Homo sapiens: one gene and its partners. The protein of the gene in region 1 interacts with the protein of each later gene in a biochemical or structural test. Each region holds a gene or a part of one and is shown in the gene's direction. Other genes may lie near its edges.

Region 1 (5,728 bases):
ATGTCCAATTTATCTGTTTTGTAGTTGTTATTGTTATTTGTGGTTTTGGTGTCACATCTAAGAATCTTGGCCTAATTCAAGGTCATGAAGATTTACTCTTATGTTTTCTTCTAGATGTTTAGTTCTATAGTTGGAGCTCATATATTTAGGTTTCTGATCCATTTTGAGTTAGTGTTTGTATAAAGTGTGAGGTAGGGGTCCAACTTCATTCTTTGAATGTGAATATTCAGTTGTTCCAGCACCATTAGTTGAGAAGACCATTCTTTCCCCATTGAATGGTCCTGGCACCTATTTTATTAAATTTAAATCTAAAGAACCACATGTAGGTTGGGCACGGTGGCTCATGCCTGTAATCCCAACACTTTGGGAGGCCAAGGCTGGTGGATCACTTGAGCTTAGGAGTTTGAGACCAGTTTGGGCAACATAGTGGAACTCTATCTCTATCAAAAATACAAAAAATCAGCTGGGCATGGTGGTACATGCCTGTAGTCCCAGCTACTAGGGAGGCTGAGGCAGGAAAATCGCCTGAGCCCAGCAGGTAGAGGTTGCAGTGAACTGAGATTGTGCCAATGGACTCCAGCCTGGGTGACAGAACAAGACACTACCTCAAAAATAAATAAATGGATAAATAAAAACCACATGTGACTGACTACTGTATTGGATGTCACAACCCTAGGTTCAACTGAAGGAGGTCCACACAGCACCCCCTGTGTATAAACAGTCATGCACATGCACGCACACACACACACACACACAAACACACACACACAGACACAAAGTGCTTCCCCATTGCACAGAGTCATTTTGCAGATTTGCACACACATGGATCCAGACACAAGTACTTGGATATTCACGGCAGGCCTGCCTCCTCTACCCCTAGGCCACATTCTAGACAATTTCTGCCTCCCTGACATGGGGGCCCCAGGACAGGTGCCTGGTCCTGACCTCTCTCCCCTTCATCCTCCAGGGAAATCAGCCTTACACTGGGCTGCGGCTGTGAACAACGTGGAAGCCACTTTGGCCCTGCTCAAAAATGGAGCCAATAAGGACATGCAGGATAGCAAGGTGAGCCCCAGCCCTTGGTCCACTGGGTGTCAGCAGTGGCACAGTGCCATTGCAATCCAGCCTGGGCAACAGAGTGAGACTCTCTCAAAAAACAAAACAAAATAAAACCCCAAACATTGGATTAAAATATAATTTACTTTGGTGACTAAAGTTTTTGGGGGCCCCTTAAATTTTGTGCCTAATGGCTGGGTGTGGTGGTTCATGCCTATAATCCCAGCACTTTGGGAGGTCGAGATGGGTGGATTACTTGAGTTCAGGAGTTTGAGACCAGCCTGGCCAACGTAGTAAAACCCTGTCTCTATTAAAAATACAAAAATTAGCTGGGCGTAGTGGTGCACACCTGTAGTCCCAGCTGCTCGGGAGGCTGAGGCAGGAGAATCGCTTGAACCCGGAAGGCTGAGGTTGCAGTGAACTGAAATGGCGCCACTGCACTCCAGCCTGGGCGACACAGTGAGACTCTGTCAAAAAAAAAAAAAAAAAAAGACAAGAAAAAAAAAGTTATGCCTAAGGTGAGTACCTCGCTTAACTCACCCTAGTCCTGGCCTTGACCTCTGGCACTTAGTAGGTGATGGATGAATGTGGTTTAGAGGAAAGAACTTGTCCAGGCTCCCCCAGCACAGCCGGGATTTAACCCAGGTCTGTCAAGCTCCAGTGTACAAACTCATAGCTCTCGGGCTCCCCCAAGAGGCTGGAAGACTTTGCTACTGTTAGCTGGGGTTTCGCTGACCTCTGTGGGTTCTGGCCCCCCAGGAGGAGACCCCCCTATTCCTGGCCGCCCGCGAGGGCAGCTATGAGGCTGCCAAGCTGCTGTTGGACCACTTTGCCAACCGTGAGATCACCGACCACCTGGACAGGCTGCCGCGGGACGTAGCCCAGGAGAGACTGCACCAGGACATCGTGCGCTTGCTGGATCAACCCAGTGGGCCCCGCAGCCCCCCCGGTCCCCACGGCCTGGGGCCTCTGCTCTGTCCTCCAGGGGCCTTCCTCCCTGGCCTCAAAGCGGCACAGTCGGGGTCCAAGAAGAGCAGGAGGCCCCCCGGGAAGGCGGGGCTGGGGCCGCAGGGGCCCCGGGGGCGGGGCAAGAAGCTGACGCTGGCCTGCCCGGGCCCCCTGGCTGACAGCTCGGTCACGCTGTCGCCCGTGGACTCGCTGGACTCCCCGCGGCCTTTCGGTGGGCCCCCTGCTTCCCCTGGTGGCTTCCCCCTTGAGGGGCCCTATGCAGCTGCCACTGCCACTGCAGTGTCTCTGGCACAGCTTGGTGGCCCAGGCCGGGCGGGTCTAGGGCGCCAGCCCCCTGGAGGATGTGTACTCAGCCTGGGCCTGCTGAACCCTGTGGCTGTGCCCCTCGATTGGGCCCGGCTGCCCCCACCTGCCCCTCCAGGCCCCTCGTTCCTGCTGCCACTGGCGCCGGGACCCCAGCTGCTCAACCCAGGGACCCCCGTCTCCCCGCAGGAGCGGCCCCCGCCTTACCTGGCAGTCCCAGGACATGGCGAGGAGTACCCGGCGGCTGGGGCACACAGCAGCCCCCCAAAGGCCCGCTTCCTGCGGGTTCCCAGTGAGCACCCTTACCTGACCCCATCCCCCGAATCCCCTGAGCACTGGGCCAGCCCCTCACCTCCCTCCCTCTCAGACTGGTCCGAATCCACGCCTAGCCCAGCCACTGCCACTGGGGCCATGGCCACCACCACTGGGGCACTGCCTGCCCAGCCACTTCCCTTGTCTGTTCCCAGCTCCCTTGCTCAGGCCCAGACCCAGCTGGGGCCCCAGCCGGAAGTTACCCCCAAGAGGCAAGTGTTGGCCTGAGACGCTCGTCAGTTCTTAGATCTTGGGGGCCTAAAGAGACCCCCGTCCTGCCTCCTTTCTTTCTCTGTCTCTTCCTTCCTTTTAGTCTTTTTCATCCTCTTCTCTTTCCACCAACCCTCCTGCATCCTTGCCTTGCAGCGTGACCGAGATAGGTCATCAGCCCAGGGCTTCAGTCTTCCTTTATTTATAATGGGTGGGGGCTACCACCCACCCTCTCAGTCTTGTGAAGAGTCTGGGACCTCCTTCTTCCCCACTTCTCTCTTCCCTCATTCCTTTCTCTCTCCTTCTGGCCTCTCATTTCCTTACACTCTGACATGAATGAATTATTATTATTTTTATTTTTCTTTTTTTTTTTACATTTTGTATAGAAACAAATTCATTTAAACAAACTTATTATTATTATTTTTTACAAAATATATATATGGAGATGCTCCCTCCCCCTGTGAACCCCCCAGTGCCCCCGTGGGGCTGAGTCTGTGGGCCCATTCGGCCAAGCTGGATTCTGTGTACCTAGTACACAGGCATGACTGGGATCCCGTGTACCGAGTACACGACCCAGGTATGTACCAAGTAGGCACCCTTGGGCGCACCCACTGGGGCCAGGGGTCGGGGGAGTGTTGGGAGCCTCCTCCCCACCCCACCTCCCTCACTTCACTGCATTCCAGATGGGACATGTTCCATAGCCTTGCTGGGGAAGGGCCCACTGCCAACTCCCTCTGCCCCAGCCCCACCCTTGGCCATCTCCCTTTGGGAACTAGGGGGCTGCTGGTGGGAAATGGGAGCCAGGGCAGATGTATGCATTCCTTTGTGTCCCTGTAAATGTGGGACTACAAGAAGAGGAGCTGCCTGAGTGGTACTTTCTCTTCCTGGTAATCCTCTGGCCCAGCCTCATGGCAGAATAGAGGTATTTTTAGGCTATTTTTGTAATATGGCTTCTGGTCAAAATCCCTGTGTAGCTGAATTCCCAAGCCCTGCATTGTACAGCCCCCCACTCCCCTCACCACCTAATAAAGGAATAGTTAACACTCAGTGTTGTTGGTCTGTGTCTAGGTAAGGTGGGGAGTGGTGGCAGTGGGACTTCTATCTCCCCCACCCAGGGCTAACTTGAGCTCCCATCTTGGGGTAAATACATTTGACTTGCCAGTCTACTTATGCTTCCTCTTTTGGCAGATGACTACCGATTGGATTAGTGGTTGTCACCTGACTTAAGCTGAGCCAATCAGATTCTTTTGCTCGAGAACTTTCTTTAATGGAGAGGCTAAGAAAGTTGTCAGTTGGTGGAGCTCTTAAGGTCACAATCAGATTTAGAAATATCAGTGGCCAATTCGAGGTGGTGGGCAAAGAGACAAGCAAACAGGGCAGAAGAATGAAGCTAATATTCAGGGAGAATCAGAAATGAGAGCTCAAATGGCTCCTTGAGGGCTGGGGGGGTTATCTCGGCTCCCAGTGCAGTTATCAATTCCAGTTAATTGAGTGTTCATTCCATTGAGATCAACAGGTATTTATTAATTGCTTTCTAAGTATCTGATCATGGTTCTGCATGAATTTCACTTTTACTTCATGCTCCTATGGGTTTTGGAGATAACCTTGGACCCATGTAATAAATACTTCTTTACTTGTGCCAGCTTCGGTGGGTTTCTGTTACTCGCAACCAGTCGTGCTCCAAGACAAGGTTCTGTTTACACTGGTGTCTTCAGGAAAGGAGGATAGGATTTAATGTTCGTTGATTCTGTCAGTTGGAGTGCTCCTGGTTGCAAATGACACAAAAGTCTACTGGCTTAAACAAGAAAGGGGTTTATTAGCTCATATAAATTAAAAGGACCTACTTCAGGGGAGAATTGATCTAGTGGCTCAAATGTGGTCAACAATGGCTCAGTTTCTCTTCATCTCTACAGCTTTCTCTGGGCATCAGTTTCATCTACATGCTCCACATGGCACCCAGTAGAACCTCTCTTCCCGACATCACACAGCTCCAGCCTTCTCTCTGTGTTATCAAAATAGGTGCCATATTGCTCCTTCCAGGGAAGAGAGAAACTCCTAGTATTGTGATTGATTTTTCTTTTACTTTCTTCCTTTTTTTTTTTTTTTTTTTAAGATAGAGTCTTGTTCTTGTCACCCAGGCTGGAGTGCAATGGCACAATCTCGGCTCACTGCATCCCCCGCCTCCGGGTTCAAGCAATTCTCCTGCCTCAGTCTCCCAAGTAGCTGGGATTACAGGTGTCCACCTCCATGCCTGGCTAATTTTTGTATTTTCAGTAGAGACAGGATTTCACCATGTTGGCCAGGCTGGTCTCGAACTCCGGACCTCAGGTGATCCATCCACCTTGGCCTCCCAAAGTGCTGGGATTACAGGCATGAGTCATCGCACTCGACCTTGTGGTTGATTTTTCTATTGACTCCAATTGGTTCACGTATCCACCCTCTAACCTAAGGTTTCTTAATTTCGGCATTATTGACATTTGGGGCCAAATCATTCTTTGCTGTGGGGAGCTGTCCTGTGCATTGTAGGATATTTAATAGCATCTCTGGTCCCTACCCATTAGCTACCAGCAGCACCCCTTTTCCAGTTGTGACAACCAATATAACATGTCTCCAGACATTGCCAATTGTCATCTGGGAGGCAGATTCACACCTGTTGTTGTCTTAAAGCATGTCTTAAAGTCTCTTCTTTGGAACTACTGATGTGCTAAATTTAGGGGCAATCAGGTTTGCAGAAGCATGAATTCTGTGGAAGCTTCTAATAAATGTTTACTCCTCTCCCACCCCCTTTAGGCTAAGTCTTTGAAGATGAAACAGTCTCTTTTAGGTTTGTCTCAACTTTATTTTATGTTTATTCCCTTACCCTCTAACCTGTATTGGG
Region 2 (8,490 bases), on another chromosome or scaffold:
CCAAGTCCTTGCACTGACCAGCCCATCCCAAGAGGATCTCACAGCTGGTGCCCATGAGCATGCACTATGCCAACATTGGGCACGTTGTTTAGGACATTATGCGGATGATCTCAGGTAGCAGAACTATGGAAACCCCGGCTCAGTAGCGAGTCCATCATTCTCAAAACCCCACCAGCTATGTGCTATTCCAGATGAGAAAACAGCAGCTCAGAGAGGTGATACACAGCTGGTGTCTAAGCTGCAGTCTGACTCCAAAACTCATACATTTAACTCTGTCCCCTGTTCTAACTCCTGCCATGGTGGCCAAGTGCCCAGGTGTTGTCAGATGAGTGACTCAAGGAATGTAAGAAACGAATGCACATTACCGTGTAGCATATCACACAACCACGCAAGAATGGTTTCGTTGCAGTGTTCAAGCTCTCCAAGAGAAGAGTAGTCTTTGAAGGATTAGGAAAGCTTCATGGGGGAGGTGCTCTTTGAAGTGTGGGGAGGATTTACAGAAGTGAAAAGGAGAAGGGTACTCCAGGTGGCAGGCACAGAGGTGGGAAGGTATGTGGTGCATTCATTGCAGGGCACAGGGAGAAAGTGGGACATGGAATCCGGGAGGCCTTCAGGGAGGAGATACATTTGGGCCTGTCTACCTGCCTTTGGGGCAATTTGCAGGTTTTGAGAAGTAGAAATGAGGGTCTGGAGAGGGCATCTGTGAGCCTCTTCTGGGAACCCCTCCCTTGTAGGTGTACATTGTCGGCCACGTGCCCCCGGGGTTCTTTGAGAAGACGCAAAACAAGGCATGGTTCCGGGAGGGCTTCAATGAAAAATACCTGAAGGTGGTCCGGAAGCATCATCGCGTCATAGCAGGGCAGTTCTTCGGGCACCACCACACCGACAGCTTTCGGATGCTCTATGATGATGCAGGTATTCAACCTGGAGGGCAACTGCCAGCTCCCTCCCTCCTTCTCTCCCCAGACCCGCTCAGTCCTGCTGTCTCTCTCCTGACAGGTGTCCCCATAAGCGCCATGTTCATCACACCTGGAGTCACCCCATGGAAAACCACATTACCTGGAGTGGTCAATGGGGCCAACAATCCAGCCATCCGGGTGTTCGAATATGACCGAGCCACACTGAGCCTGAAGGTCAGGAGTCCTGCGGAGGCCAGAGGAGGAGGGTGGGAGGGGCTTAAATGCATCACCACCTTCCCTCACTCTCAGCTTATCCACCTTCCCCTGACCACTGAGCCTCAGGAAGGTTGAGCTCCTTCCACCCTTCTCCAGCTCAGGATCAGAACCCTGGAGGCACCTGCCACCGAGTCAGGGCAGTGCCTCACCAAGTCACCTTTTCCCCTGGATGACTGTCACAGCTTCATACCTGGTCTCCCTGCCTCTGGCCCTGCCCTGCTATGGCCCATCCGCTACACAAGAGAGAAGAAACTAATCTCCTATAGCACCACTTTCATCTTGTCTCCGTCCTGCTCAAAAACCTTCAGTGGCTCCCCAGTGCCTTCAAGATAAAGTTGTGTCTCCTTGACCTAGTACTCAAGGCTTCCCACAGTCTGACTTCAAGCCCATTGTCCACATTTTCCGTACACAGACGAGGCTCCAGCCCCTAATTCTTTGGGCAGTCCCTCACCTCGTAGGATGAGCTTGTGGTTGTTGAGATGAAAAATATTATTCCTTTATTTATCCAACAAAATGCATTAAGTGTGTGCCATTGGCCAGGCCCTGTTCTAATCTCAGAAGATATGTAAATTTAAAAACAAAGTCACCCCTCTCCTGGACCTGACATCTTACAGGAGAGGGACAATAAATATGTAGAATTAATTATAGTACTGAGAGAAGGGCTAAGGAGAAAATCAAAACAGTGAGGCGACAGGGTGACAGCTATGGGAGGTGTGTACTGTGTTAGATAGGTGGGAAGGGGAAGTGTCCACATAAGGTGCCATTTGAGTTCTGAGTGTATTGAGGGAGGGAGCCCAGTGGGTATCTTGGGGAGGTGGAGGGAACAGCAAGTCAAAGGCCCCGGGGTGGGAATGTGCGTGGTAGGTTAGGGGAAGAGCACGGAGGCCATGTGGCCACAGTAAGAGGCACAAGGGGAGAGTGGGAGGGGAGGTCCGATCTTGCAGGCCTCCATGAGGACTCTGGATTTGGAGGGTTTTGCGCAGAAGAATGAAATCCTGTGACTTATAATTTTATGGAATCATCATGTCTGCTGTGCAGGGAACAGGCTGTAGGGGCAGGTGGGGGAGCAGTGAGGCCGTTTGGAGGGAAGGACAAATCCCAGATGACAGGATAGTAGCTTGCCCAGGGTGGAGGCAGTGAGATGGTGAAAAGTGCCAGGTCCCAGATGAATTCTGGATGCAGGATTTGCTAGAGTGGATATGAGCTGTGAGAAAAAGGGACGAATCCAGGAGGCTTCCAAGGCTCTTGGCCTGTGCAACGGTAGGCTGTGGCTGCCGATTACTGAGATAAGTGGCAGGGTGATCAGGCTTCGGAGGGTCAGTCAGAGGTCTTGTTTTGGACCTGTTACCTTTGGGAGGGCTAAATGGCATCAAGTGAAAGTGGACAGGGAAGGGGCAAGTTGGAGCTTGAAGAGGTGAGGATAGAGATGTGATCTGGGAGTGGAGAGAGGACATTTAAAGCCAACGACTGCATGAGCTAACCCAGGTCCTTGATTCTAGTAAAGGTAGATTAAGAAGAGGTCTGAGGGGTTTAAAGAGTGGCCTGTTGTCCACATGGGCACTCCAAGGGTCTGAGCAAGGGGAATGGCAGGCTGCACCATCACCCCCTAACAGGCCCTCCATTCTCCTCAGGGAGGGAGTCAGCCCTGAGCTTGAATCCTGGCTCCACCACTCATAAGCTTTTTGATCTTTTGACCTCTGTGCCTCACTTGCTTCATCTGTAAAATGGGAGTAACAGAACCTCGCAGGGTTTGAGGAGGACTACATGAAATAATGGAATGTTCCTGGCACAGAGTGGCCATGCATACGGGCAGCTCCTCTTACCCCGTCTGCAGTGGCCTGAAGCAGGTTCATAAATGTACCTGGAACCCGCTGGACTGATGAACCCTGCAGAGTCTAGCCGTGAACATGCACCTGGGTCCTAGGAGTCTACAGTTCATAATCTCTCTCATGCTTAGTGTTGCTCTTTTTATGTTGCTTTTATCTATTCATTATGTAAATATTTACTGAGCGTCTTCTATGTGTACCCTAGCATGGTGGGACCTGGGGTAAACCTGGGGTCCAATCCTGCTACCACTGAATACCTGTATGAATACCTGTATGACCCTGGCCAAGTGAATTAACCTCTTTAGGCCTCAGTTTCCTCATTTGTGAAACCTAGGTAATAAGCGCAGTTACCTCATTCGATTCAGAGGATGTCTGCCAAGCACAATGGGTGCACAGCTAAGTGCTCAATAACTACTAGTGGTCATGGTCACTGCTCTAAAGAACTTGGGGGCAAATGCAAGGTGCAGGATGGGGATGGAAGCAGACAACTGCTCACAGCCGGTCTACCCCAAACCCTTTTTCCAGGACATGGTGACCTACTTCATGAACCTGAGCCAGGCGAATGCTCAGGGGACGCCGCGCTGGGAGCTCGAGTACCAGCTGACCGAGGCCTATGGGGTGCCGGACGCCAGCGCCCACTCCATGCACACAGTGCTGGACCGCATCGCTGGCGACCAGAGCACACTGCAGCGCTACTACGTCTATAACTCAGTCAGCTACTCTGCTGGGGTCTGCGACGAGGCCTGCAGCATGCAGCACGTGTGTGCCATGCGCCAGGTGGACATTGACGCTTACACCACCTGTCTGTATGCCTCTGGCACCACGCCCGTGCCCCAGCTCCCGCTGCTGCTGATGGCCCTGCTGGGCCTGTGCACGCTCGTGCTGTGACCTGCCAGGCTCACCTTCTTCCTGGTAACGGGTAACGGGGGCAGCGCCCAGGATCACCCAGAGCTGGGCCTTCCACCATTTCCTCCGCGCCTGAGGAGTGAACTGAAATAGGACAACCGAATCAGGAAGCGAAGCCCCAGGAGCTGCAGCCATCCGTGATCGCGCCACTGCACTCCAGCCTGGGTGACAAAGCCAGACTCTCTCCAAAAACAAACCAGAAACAGAAAAGAAATGACGACCCAAGACCCCCCTACAAGCATACTTCTTTTGCGTATTATGTTTAACTCACAAAACAAAGCTCATCATGCGTTTGATTCTGTGTTGTGTTCCTTTTCTTTTCTTTTGAGACGGAGTCTCGCTCTGTCGCCCAGGCCGGAGTGCAGTGGCGCTATCTCGGCTCTCTGCAACCTCTGCCTCCCGGGTTCAAGCGATTCTCCTGCCTCAGCCTCCTAGCTGGGACTACAGGCGCGCGCCAACACGCCCGACTAATTTGTATTTTTAGTAGAGACGGGGTTTCGCCATGTTTGCCAGGCTGGTCTCGAACTCCTGACCTCAGGTGATCCGCCCGCCTGGGCCTCCCAAAGTGTTGGGATTACAGGCGTGAGTCACCGCGCCCGGCCTCTATTCCCTTCCGTATGGAAATGAGGTTAACTCATTTGCAGGAACCTAACGCCCGCCCTCCCCCGACTCGGATCGCTGGCGTGAACCCAGCGGCCCCGTGCTCTCCGGGTATCCCTGGATCGAGGCGCACGCGTTGTTGCAAAGTCTCGCACTTAGGGATTAGAATGTGCCTTTGCGTTTCGTTTTGTTTTGCAACAATACAGGTGTGAGGGATCGCAGCCCTGGTCCAGGCTCTAGTCTCCCCGCCCTCTCGCTTTCTTGGGCCTCCGGGCGCCTCAAAGGTAAAACTAGGCCATTTGAAGCCTGCGAAGCGAAGGGCAGTCGGTCTTCAGGCCTAGCGGGCTTGGCTGGGCTGGGTCGGTGGACCCCTGGGCTGGCGGCGGGAGCAGAGCATCGAGCGGCTTTTAGCTGGGGTTCGGGCGGAGGACCTGGGACAACCGCGGGCCTCGCTCCTCCCCGGACGGGGCGGGACGGGGAAGTCCCGCCCACCAGGCCCAGGCCCCGGGCCGCCCCGAGGGCTGCGCCCACCTCCTTCCTGCCTCGGCAACCCCGGGCCCTGAGGGCAGGCCCCAACCGCGGAGGAGCAGGAGAGGGCGGAGGCCGGCGGGCCATGCCCTGGTCGTCCCGCGGCGCCCTCCTTCGGGACCTGGTCCTGGGCGTGCTGGGCACCGCCGCCTTCCTGCTCGACCTGGGCACCGACCTGTGGGCCGCCGTCCAGTATGCGCTCGGCGGCCGCTACCTGTGGGCGGCGCTGGTGCTGGCGCTGCTGGGCCTGGCCTCCGTGGCGCTGCAGCTCTTCAGCTGGCTCTGGCTGCGCGCTGACCCTGCCGGCCTGCACGGGTCGCAGCCCCCGCGCCGCTGCCTGGCGCTGCTGCATCTCCTGCAGCTGGGTTACCTGTACAGGTGAGTGCTTCGCCCCGGGAGGGGAGGAGTGTCGGAGCCCAGCACCTCCGTCAGCTGGGTCACCTGTACAGGTGACACGCCATATGCCGGGAAGGGGACTGGGAGAGGGAACCAAGTCCTGTGGGCGCCTGGCCTACAGGTGAGCGTGCAGCCCTTTACGGAAAGGGAATCCCGGTAGACTGCCTTCATTCTAGCCCTAGCTTTCCTGGCACAGGCGAAGAAACTGAGGCCCAGGGAAGAAAGGGAGGCGCATGGGCTTTGAAGTCGGACCTCTCAGGGATCCACTTCTGGCTTTGCCCCCTCTCGCCTCACTTCTGCATTTCTCTGAGCCTCAGTTTCCTCCTGCGTAGAAAGGAGGTAGTCACCCTGAGACAGGTGTGACGGGCAGGCCTGTTGTGAAGAGTGAGCGAAAGAATGAGAAAGTGCCTCGCACAGTGCCTGGCCTGTAATGGCAGGGGCTGCGGACTCAGTTCAGCATCCCATGTTTCAGCATGGGCAGGGCCTTGGGAAGTCACTGACCTCTCAGTGGGGCTGTTTGGTTGCTGTTCCCATTGGGATGGGGATAGCGCCTGCCCGTTTGGTGAAGATGCAGTGAAATGACATCTGTCCACTGCCCTGGCTCAGAGTGAGCACTCAGCAACCTCAGCTGGCTTCTTGACCTGGGCCTCCCTGGGAGTTTCAGCAGCCCTGACCCCACCACAGCGCTTGCCCCTCACAAAGGCCGCCTCTCACCCTGTCTGCCTGGTTGTATTCTTCCCCCTGAAACTTGGCTTCCCACCCCAGACCCAGCAAGAGGGCAGAGATGGCCTCTGACTCATCCATGCCCATGGAGCCAGCCAGGGCTGGGCATAGGCTGGGTCCTGGAAAATGTGTGTGGATTCTGCTCCTTTTTGGACCTGGTGGAGCCTCGTAGAGATGGGAAAACAAACCCAAGGCTCAGAGGCATGCGACAAAGTCAGGGCAGAGGGTGGTGTGGGTTGGGATGGGGTGGCCAGGGCCAGGATCTGCTCTTGAATCCGTTTTTACAAACTCTTGAGATCTGGCCTTGACAAAGCCACACGGAGTCTCCAGGAGTGGAAGAGAGGAGCTTTGAATGTGGCAGTTTTGCCTGAGGGATTATAGAGACATCAGAAAACCCCGGGTGGGCATGAAGGGGTGCAGTTGTTAAGTCCTGGGCAGGCCTCCATGAGCCGTGAATCTGTAACTACCTTATGCATCTTTGTGGCCAATATTTCTGCTGAGCTTGAGTCAGACAGACTGTACTAGCTTTGGCTTTGGAAATGGGTCTCTGTTCCTGCCTGTGAATTGGCCGAGGCAGGGGTCCCTGCTAGGTCACTGGGGACCATAGGCAAAGGCTCCTGCTGAGGGAGAACCCCAGCCTGTCCTGCCTGCCTGCTCCTCAGTGTGTTCTTGTGTCCTTCCAGGGGAAGTGACAGTACATGTCTGGTGAATGAGCTTGTGATGAGTGAACGGGGTTCTCTCCCAATAGGCAACTGAGAGCAAAGTTCTGGGTGGAGGGTCCTTGGTGCATCCTCCACTTACTCTTCATGCCAGTGGGTACCCCAGACCTGTCTGTCCAAACTCTGGACTCTCTTAACTCCGCCCCAATCTCCATCCTTAACCACTCAGGGCCAGCCTCTTAAATGGGATCCCTCCTTCCAATCTAACCCTCCTCCAGCCCCTCCCCTGTGTGGCCGGGGCAAGGCAGAGTCTGATTCCATCTGGCCTGTGCCCAGAAGTGCCCAAGAGGCAAATGTCCTCTTGCCCACAGGACCCCAGGAGATCTTGGGCACACTAAAGTTTGAGAACTACTGCCTCAGGCAACTTTATAGCATGCCTTTCCAATTCAGGTTTGGATCCAAATCCTCATTCCAGTACTTATTAGCTGCTTATAATTTTTTGTTTGTTTTTTAAAAAGAGGTAGGGTCTGGTCAGGCTTGGTGGCTCATGCCTGTAATCCTAGCAGTCTGGGAGGCTGACGTGGGTGGATCACTTGAGGTCAGGAGTTTGAGACCAGCCTGCTGAACATGGCAAAAGCTCATCTCTACAAAAATTAGCCAGGTGTGGTGGCGCATGCCTGTAATCCCAGCATCCCAGCTACTCTGGAGGCCGAGGCAGGAGAATCGCTTGAACCTGGGAGGTGGAGGTTGCAGTGAGCCGAGTTTGTGCCACTGCACTCTAGCCTGGGCGACAAGCGACAGATGTAGACTCTGTCTCCAAAAAAAAAGAAAAAAAAAAAGAGAGAGAGAGGCAGGGTCTCTGTTGCCTGGGCTGGAGTGCAGTGGCACAATCAATCATGGCTCACAGTGGCCTTGAACTCCTGGGCTCAAGCTGTCCTCCTGCGTCAGCCTCCTGAGTAGCTTGGACTACAGGCTTGTACCACCACGTCCAACTAATTAAAAAAAATTCTTTGTAGAGATGGGGCTTGCTGTGTTGCCCAGGGTGGTCTCAAACTCCTGGCCTCCAGTGATCCTCTTGCCTTGGCCTGTCAAAATGTTGGGATTACAGGCGCGAGCCACTGCACCCAGACCTTATTAGCTTCTTGATCCTGTTTCCCCATCTGTAAAATGGGCTTTTGTGAGAAGTAAACAGGACAAGGTTTGTGATGAGCTTGGGACAGTGCTTAGCCAGCGGGAGTAGAAGGTGTATTGATCCCCATTTTTGCTTTTTTGTTTTTTTTGAGACGGAGTCTTGTTCTGTCGCCAGGCTGGAGTGCAGTGGCACGATCTCGGCTCACTGTAACCTCCGCCTTGCAGATTCAAGAGATTCTCCTGCCTCAGCCTCCTGAGTAGCTGGGACTACAGGCGCGCACCACCACACCCAGCTAATTTTTTGTATTAGTAGAGACGAGGCTTCACCATGTTAGCCAGGATGGTCTCAATCTCCTGAACTCGTGATCAGCCCGCCTCAGACTCCCAAAGTGCTGGGATTACAGGCATGAGCCACCACACCCGGCCTCGATCCTCATTTTACAGATGAAACAAGTTCAGTGAGGTTAGGACATTGCCGAAGGCCCCATAGCATGGATGTGAGGAGACAGGTTGGAGCCTGTGTCCACTCATTAGATGGGTGGGAGG
Region 3 (7,820 bases), on another chromosome or scaffold:
ATGATGAGCATATGTTCTCACTTGTTGCTAATAAGCAGTGCGGCAGGTTTTCTTTATACATTTATCTTCATGGATTTATACATCTAGCAAACATATGCTAGTATTTGTGTAGGATAAAGTTCTACAGTGGGGTTGCTGGGGTGAAAATGATGTGTTTAAACTTGTAACACATATGACCAAAATGGACCTTCCAAAGGCATTTTTAAAGTCCTGTCTCTTTCTCTGTAGGCATTGTCTCTTCAGGTCTTCTTTTTTTTTCTTTTTTTTTTTTTTTGAGATGGAGTCTTGCTCTGTCACTCAGGCTAGAGTGCAGTGGCATGATCTCAGCTCACTGCAACCTCCACCTCCCGGGTTCAAGCAATTCTTCTGTCTCAGCCTCTCAAGTAGCTGGGACTACAGGCGCCTGCCACCATGTCCGGCTAATTTTTGTATTTTTAGTAGAGACGGGGCTTTGCCATATTGGTCAGACTAGTCTTGAACTCCTGACCTCAGGTGATCCACCAACCTTGGCCTCCCAAAGTGCTGGGATTTCAGGTGTGAGCCATCACGCCCAGCCTAGGTCTTCTTTTATGTCCTTCAATAAAAGTTTTAGTTTTCTTTCCTTTTTTTTTTTTAATTTTACTTTTTTGAGACAGAGTCTCACTCTGTCACCCAGTCTGGAGTGCAGTGGCACAATCTCGGTTCACTGCAACTTCCGCCTCCTGGGTTCAAGTGATTCTCCTGCTTCAGCCTCCCGAGTAGCTGGGACTACAGGTGCGTGCCACCACGCCTGGCTAATTTTTGTATTTTTAGTAGAGATGGGGTTTCACTATGTTGGCCAGGCTGCTCTTGAGCTCCTGACCTTGTGATTCCCCCCGCCTTGGCCTCCCAAAGTGCTGGGATTACAGGCATGAACCACTGCACCCAGCGCTTTTTTCTTTTCTTTTCTCTTTTTGAGATGGAGTCTCCCTCTGGCACCCAGGCTGGAGTGCAGTGGTGCAATCTCAGGTCATTGCAACCTCCACCTCCTGGGTTCAAGAGATTCTCCTGCCTCAGCCTCCCAAGTAGCTGGGATTACAGTTGTGTGCCACCAGGCCTGGCTAATTTTTGTATTTTTACTTGAGATGGGGTGTCACTATGTTGGCCAGGCTGGTCTCGAACTCCTCACCTCAAGTGATCCGCCCACCTCAGCCTCCCAGAATGCTGGGATTACAGGTGTGAACCACTGCACCCAGACTTACTATAAGTCTTCATGTAGGTCTTGCTTATTTTTTACAGATTTACCCCCAGCTATTCCATAGTTTCAATTTCAAAAATTTTATCTTCTAACTAATTGGGCCTGATATGTAGAAAAGCCTTTTTTGTTTTTGTATTTATTCTTTTTCTTTCTTTTTTTTTTTTGAGTCAGAGTCTCGCTCTTGTTGACCAGGCTGGAGTGCAGTGGCACAATTTCTGCTCACTGCAACCTCCGCCTCCCAGGTTCAAGCGATCTCCTGCCTCAGCCTCCCGAGTAGCTGGGACTACAGGTGCCTGCCACCCTGCCTCGCTACTTTTTGTATTTTTAGTAGAGACGGGGTTTCACCATGTTGGCCAGGCTGGTCTCGAACTCCTGATCTCAGGTTATCCACCCACCTCGGCCTCCTGAAGTGCTGGGATTACAGGCGTGAGCCACCACGCCTGGCCTGTGTTTATTCTTATGAGTGTTGAGTTATTGGATTTCCTAGGTGACATGGTTTCTTATAACTACATACATATTCTTCCATGCACATTTTCTGACGGTTGACCTTGTTTGATCTTAGGTGGTTTGGCTTTGAATGACAGCAAGAACTCTGTCTTTAATGGCTTCATTGGTAGCGTATGATGATTCGGACTCGGAGGCTGAGACAGAGCATGCAGGAAGTTTTAATGCTACCGGCCAGCAGAAAGACACTTCTGGTGTGGCCAGACCACCTGGGCAGGATTTTGCATCTGGTACACTGGATGTGCCCAAAGCAGGGGCACAGCCCACAAAGCATGGCTCCTGTGAAGACCCAGGGGGCTATCGCCTTCCATTGGCTCAGCTTGGGAGAAGCGATTGGGGATCTTGCCCCAGCCAGAGGCTACAGTGGCCCGGGAAGGAGCCTCAAGTCACCTTCCCCATCAAAGAGCCTTCTTGTTCTTCTCTGTGGACGAGCCATGTTCCAGCCAGCCACATGCCCCTGGCAGCTGCCCGCTTTAAGCAAGTAAAACTCTCCAGGAACTTTCCCAAGTCATCTTTCCATGCTCAAAGTGAGTCTGAAACCGTAGGTAAAAATGGCAGCTCTTTTCAGAAGAAAAAATGTGAGGACTGTGTGGTACCCTATACTCCCAGAAGACTAAGACAGCGGCAGGCATTAAGCACGGAGACAGGCAAGGGTAAAGACGTGGAGCCACAGGGGCCCCCTGCAGGGCGTGCCCCAGCCCCTCTCTACGTGGGCCCGGGAGTGTCTGAGTTTATTCAGCCATATTTGAATAGCCATTATAAAGAAACCACAGTTCCCCGGAAAGTGCTTTTCCACCTGAGAGGCCACAGGGGCCCTGTCAACACCATTCAGTGGTGTCCAGTCCTTTCTAAGAGCCACATGCTTCTCTCCACTTCTATGGATAAAACTTTCAAGGTAAGACTTGAATGAAAACTTCTGCTTTCAGATGCTCTTAGGAATACACTGCTGGAATAATAGTGAAGTGGAGGGAGGTTACAGGCTGAACTTTTTTTTGTGTGCAGATTTCTGTAATTCCCTTTGTTGCATTCCAGAAAGGGTCATCTGTGGTCAGCTCCGGGTTGTGGGTTCCTTCTGCCCCAACCCTTCCCTGATGCTGCCTTGCTCAGGTTACCAGAGGATACTGTTTCTTATCCCTCTCGGAGGCCGTGAGGGAGGAGGTGAGAGTGATTAGTGGGAGAAGAAAAGCAGGCCCAGGACCAAGCCCTGGGGACTGGGGACATCCTCGGTGACCCTGTGGAGCATTGAGCCATGCCAGCTCTGTGCCTGGTGCTGTGCTGGTTTCAAGGGCTGTTGGGAGAGGTAGGTAGACCCAGCCCCTGGTGTCAGGGCTTGCACAGTGAGGCGGGAGCCGTGGACAAGTACACAGACTCAACCCTGAGCTGTGAGGACGGCCCCCAGTAGGACACACAGGTGCTCTGGGAGCCCAACGGGAGGGTTACCAGCCCAGCCCGGCAGGGCTCAGTGAAGGCCTCCTGAGGAAGGGGAAGGTTCGCTTGGGGATGGGGGCAGAAGGGCGTGCTTGGCTGCAGGAGCCCTGTGTATGTGTTGGCTCCAAGCATGAGGGCCTGGGAGCTGGCTTCAAGCATGTGTGGGTGAGGGACTTGAGGCTGGGGAAGCAAGGTCAGGGAAGGTTGCACGTGCCCTTCTGGGGACTTCTGGTTTTACATGGAAACTCTTTTTTGCATTGTCTTATTTATTTTACAGGCTACTGAAGTGATAGTAATGTAGTCCCCCAGTATGGAGGTACAGTGTGATAGGTCGTTGTGCCCACCTGGGACCTGTCTCCAGCCCTTCGAGCTGTGCACTGCATCCCTCCTCTCTCTCCTCGCAGCTAGCAAAGCACCTGATATGTAGCGGGTGCCAACTAAATGCTAGCTGAACAGAAAGCTCTTGGAAAGGAAATAACTTCAAGGGACCTGGCTTCACATCCAGCTTTGCTGCAGAGTAGCTAGCTGGTCGACCACTGGCCGGCTGCCTTCCTGTGGAGTCTAGTGTCTCATTTGTAAAAGGGCAAAATCATACCTGGGTCATGTGCTCATGTGAGAAAAATGCTGAAAAAGTGCCTTGCACAGAGCCAGGTACCTCATAGGCGCTCAGTAAATGGTGGTTCCCTTGCCCTTGTTTCCTCAGAGTTCTGGAACCAACTTTCCTACATCTTTTCTCTTGCAAATTACATTTTGAGCTTTTCTCCCTCGGAAACATTTTCTTAAGTGAAGAAAGGAAGCTCCAAGTATAGAGATGTCTTTGAAATGAGCTGAATTGATGGGTGGCATTTTTAAGTGGCGAACTGGAGTCCTGAAGTGGCTTGTCTGTGCTCTTTTCTAGCAAGACTCAGAGTCCTGTGGGAGAGAACGTCATATTCTCTCTTCAGCCTGGAGTTCCAGGATTTTCCACTTAGGTCTTTGGTGCTTTTCCTGCCATTCCGGGGGCTGTGAAGTGTGCGCGGAGGCTTCTGGCATCCCTGGCGTGGATCACAGCATGCTGGGATTGATCCTGTGGCCCCGGGGCTTCTCTGCTCTCCTTCCCAAGTCTGCGCTGCAAGGGCTGGAGGATGGGAAGCCCATCTGGAGGGTTGCTGGTGGGCCTGGGCAGTGTCTGACTGGCCCTGGAGTTCAAGTGGTGGCCCTTGTCCTCCCTGTGCTCACCTTCCTGTTGAGGCCTTCTTTTACCTGCCCGCTCACCTCTGGAGTTCTCTCTCCTGATGGTGAGGGGCAGACCTGGGGCCCTGTGGGACTGGCCTTCGCCTGGTGGCGTGAAGTGCTCCCTGGGCCCTGCTGGCAGAGTGGCAGCTTGGGTCACTTTTGCCTGGGAAATTTAGATTTCCTAAACAGAAGCATCCCCATGGTAGTTTTTGAGCAGAGAGCACCTGAGTAGAGGCATTGATTTCTGGCCTTGTGGAGTAGACAAATGTGCCAGGCACGGTGCCACTGGGGACGTGGGGGGAGAGACGTTTCTGCCCCCATGGAGGGGAAACTGTGAGCAGCCAACTAACTGTGACACCTCATGACCAGAAGAGGGCGCAGTGGGCCCAGCTTGGAATGGCAGTGAGGGTGGCTCAGACTGAGGGACTGTGGTAGGAATGCCCTGCTCCTGGGCGATTCAGAGACCTGGGTCCGGGTCTGTGGGGCTGCCCTGGGTGGGGCCAGGCGCCGCAGCTGTGCCCGCCTGTCCCGAGGAGACTGTGTGTGCTGCAGGTGATGACACTGGCATGGGCCCCTTGGGCTGCCAGGCAGCTTCTGGGGAGCCCCACCCACTGCACTGTGCACCCTGGGTTCCTTCCCAGGGCAGAGCACATTTGCTGTCATGAGGTTGGGCCAGGGTCAGCATGGCTGCTAGGGTTGGCATCTCCTGACCCTCTTTTTTTACTGTGGTGTCGTGAACATTAGGGCTTTTATAAGCCATAGATACAAATGGTGGGCCAGGGCCCTCTCTGTTTTAAGATATTTGTCAGTTTTCAGTGATGGGGTTATTTGGCAAATTGGTTTTGGGCAAATTGACTTTGAACAACTTTTCAGTGTGAAGAGTGTATGGCAGGGGCTGGAGGAGCCAGGATGGGAAGACAGATTGGGAACCGGCGGGGAGCCAGGCAGGAGCTGTGGCCAGAAGTCCCGGCTGAGGCCTCAGGCTTGCTGGGCCACCAGGTTTGTGCGTGGCCTGGCTGGGAGGCACATGGTGTTCTTTTCCCTCCTTGGTGTCAGAGGTGGGGCAGCATGGCAGATCTTGGGGACCTGGTGATCTGGGGAAGGCAGTGTGTGGGTGTGGGTGGTGGGTCTGGAGTGGGGATAGGGCCTCGGGCACAGGCAGGAGTCCTGGCTGGCTGCAGCCCAGTCCCTGGAGGAGAGGAAATGGTGGGTGCAGCATGGAATGAGCTCAAAGAGGCGGGTGCAGCAGTACACCCTTCCCAGGGTGCTTTCCCCCTGCCTTTTGGTTAAAATCTGCCAGTGTCTTCTGGGCCCCTGCTGGATCAGGAAGGAGGGAAGAGCTTGGGGGCTGGGTGACAAGACCTGCTTGGGTCCTTCCTCTACGGCCAGCCCCTTGGTTGCGTGGTCTCTGGCAAGTTACCTCACTTCTGAGCCTTCATTTGAGTATCTATAAAGTGGAGAGAATTAAACATGCCTCGCTGGGTTTTTGTGAAAAGTAAACGATATTAGTTGTGAATCACCAAGTGCAATGCCTGGCACATAGCAGGCACTTAGTGTGTGCTCGAGTTCCTGCTTTTCCCCAAGAATTTCCTCCTTTCCTTGACTTGTGCTCATGTCTTATTTTACGTAAGTAGCCATGGAAGCATATCAGCTTCACCTACTAGACTTTAAGCTTCCTGAGCCAGAACCCATTTTTATATTCCCCAGCATCTGGCACAAAATTGTGTACATGTTAAGTGATCGATAAAAATTAAAACAAATTTTTTGGATTTTATCGCAAGCCTTTGGGAAGGGATTGTCTTTTGAGTGGATAAATCATATTCGCCACTAGGGTGCACAGTAAGACTTAATATAAGCAGCTCATCCAAGCTTCTAGAATGTGGAAGAATCCTTGATTCAAGGTAACATTTACTGAAAAATGATTTCTTTCTGATCAGGAGAAAAACAACACAGTCCAACTTATTAATCTAAAGAACATGGAGTGCCAGTTCCTTCATATCCTTAAAACGTAGCTTCGGAATTCATACATTTCAACTGGACACATTACAGTGGAAAGATACTTATTTTAATATGTTCTAAATGTTCTGTGAGCTGTAAAATATGCTTTTATTAGTTTTGAAAAATTTACAGCTAGAGAAATTAAGTAAAATAAAACAATGACTCATAATTCTGCACCGCTGCTCTTTCCTGACGATCCCTTCCTCCCCTTGTCTGTGAACGTGCTTGTTTTTTTCATAGCTGTGATCCCAGCACGGATACCCTTTTATATACTCTTTTCATCTCCCAGTGAACTCTTTTGGCTTAACGTGTTTGAACACCCACTGCACGTAAAGGTAGAAATTCAGACTTTGATGCCTTTTTTTGAAGGAAAACATGTACGTGGCCTGCGTTAACCAAAAACACAACCAGCCGTTATTGAATGCTCCCATGTACAGAACCCTCTGCCAGGCACTGAGAGGGAGTCCCAAAGGAATAAGACCTTTGGGTGGGTGACAGAAGACCCACCAGGGACCTTCTGTACCTGTATGAAAACCTGCAGTTCTGAAACACAGAAGGTTTTTAAAGAAAATATATGAATTAGATGTTGTTTATTTGCTTTACAGAATAATTTGCTCTAGAAATTCTTTCAGTAACAAGCTTCCTTAAAATACTTTGAAAAAAAACCTTTTAATTTTTGACCATGAATGTAATAGATGCTTATTGTGAAAAACTTTAATGATGCAGGAAATATGAAGTATGAAGGAGAAACAGAAATCATTGATAACTCCCAACCCCAAGTCAGTGCCTCATTAACATGAGGGGCCTCCCTGGTCGGGGGCCCTACATTCCTATCTGTTTACATAATTGGGCTTATTGCATAGTATGTGCAGTTTTGAATTCTTCCTCTGCTGCCCAATCTTCTGTAACGTGTAAGGGGAATTTTTCTACCTTATTAAAAACTTTTCCCCAAATATATTTTTATAACTGTCTCAAGTTTCATACTTTGCTCCATCATTTCCATGTTGTTTCCTATAATTTCCTGCTTTTGTTTAAAAAATAATCAGTATTACAGTGAATATGGCTATACATAAATATTGTCTTTTTTTGCTGCCTTAATGCAGTTAAGATGGGCTTTGAGGCCAGGCGCGGTGGCTCATGCCTGTAATCCCAGCACTTTGGGAGGCCGAGGCAGGCGGATCACGAGGTCAGGAGATTGAGACCATCTTGGCTAACATGGTGAAACCCCGTCTCTACTAAAAATACAAAAAATTAGCCGGGCGCGGTGGTGGGCGGCTGTAGTCCCAGCTGCTCGGGAGGCTGAGGCAGGAGAATGGCATGAACCCAGGAGGCGGAGCTTGCAGTGAGCCCAGATCGCACCACTGCACTCCAGCCTGGGTGAAAGAGCGAGACTCCATCTCAGAAAAAAAAAGAAAAAGATGGGCTTTGATTTACACCCAGGCATTAGCTAAAGCCCTTG

The links. The genes of interacting proteins can lie anywhere in the genome.
Region 2: the proteins of NOTCH3 (region 1) and XKR8 form a complex in vitro, tested with the Homo sapiens proteins (one study listed by BioGRID).
Region 3: the proteins of NOTCH3 (region 1) and WDR25 form a complex in vitro, tested with the Homo sapiens proteins (one study listed by BioGRID).

The regions. Positions count from the first base shown.
Region 1 is NC_000019.10:15,157,802-15,163,529, reverse strand, and holds the end of NOTCH3 (neurogenic locus notch homolog protein 3 precursor), read left to right. Parts: intron 1-967; coding exon 968-1,065; intron 1,066-1,815; coding exon 1,816-2,868; 3' UTR 2,869-4,492; downstream 4,493-5,728. UniProt on the Homo sapiens protein: Functions as a receptor for membrane-bound ligands Jagged1, Jagged2 and Delta1 to regulate cell-fate determination.
Region 2 is NC_000001.11:27,954,950-27,963,439, forward strand, and holds the start of XKR8 (XK-related protein 8), read left to right. Parts: upstream 1-5,023; 5' UTR 5,024-5,120; coding exon 5,121-5,413; intron 5,414-8,490. Other genes in the region: SMPDL3B (acid sphingomyelinase-like phosphodiesterase 3b), read left to right, coding at 735-915, 1,000-1,133, 3,527-3,889.
Region 3 is NC_000014.9:100,379,132-100,386,951, forward strand, and holds part of WDR25 (WD repeat-containing protein 25), read left to right. Parts: intron 1-1,778; 5' UTR 1,779-1,793; coding exon 1,794-2,615; intron 2,616-7,820.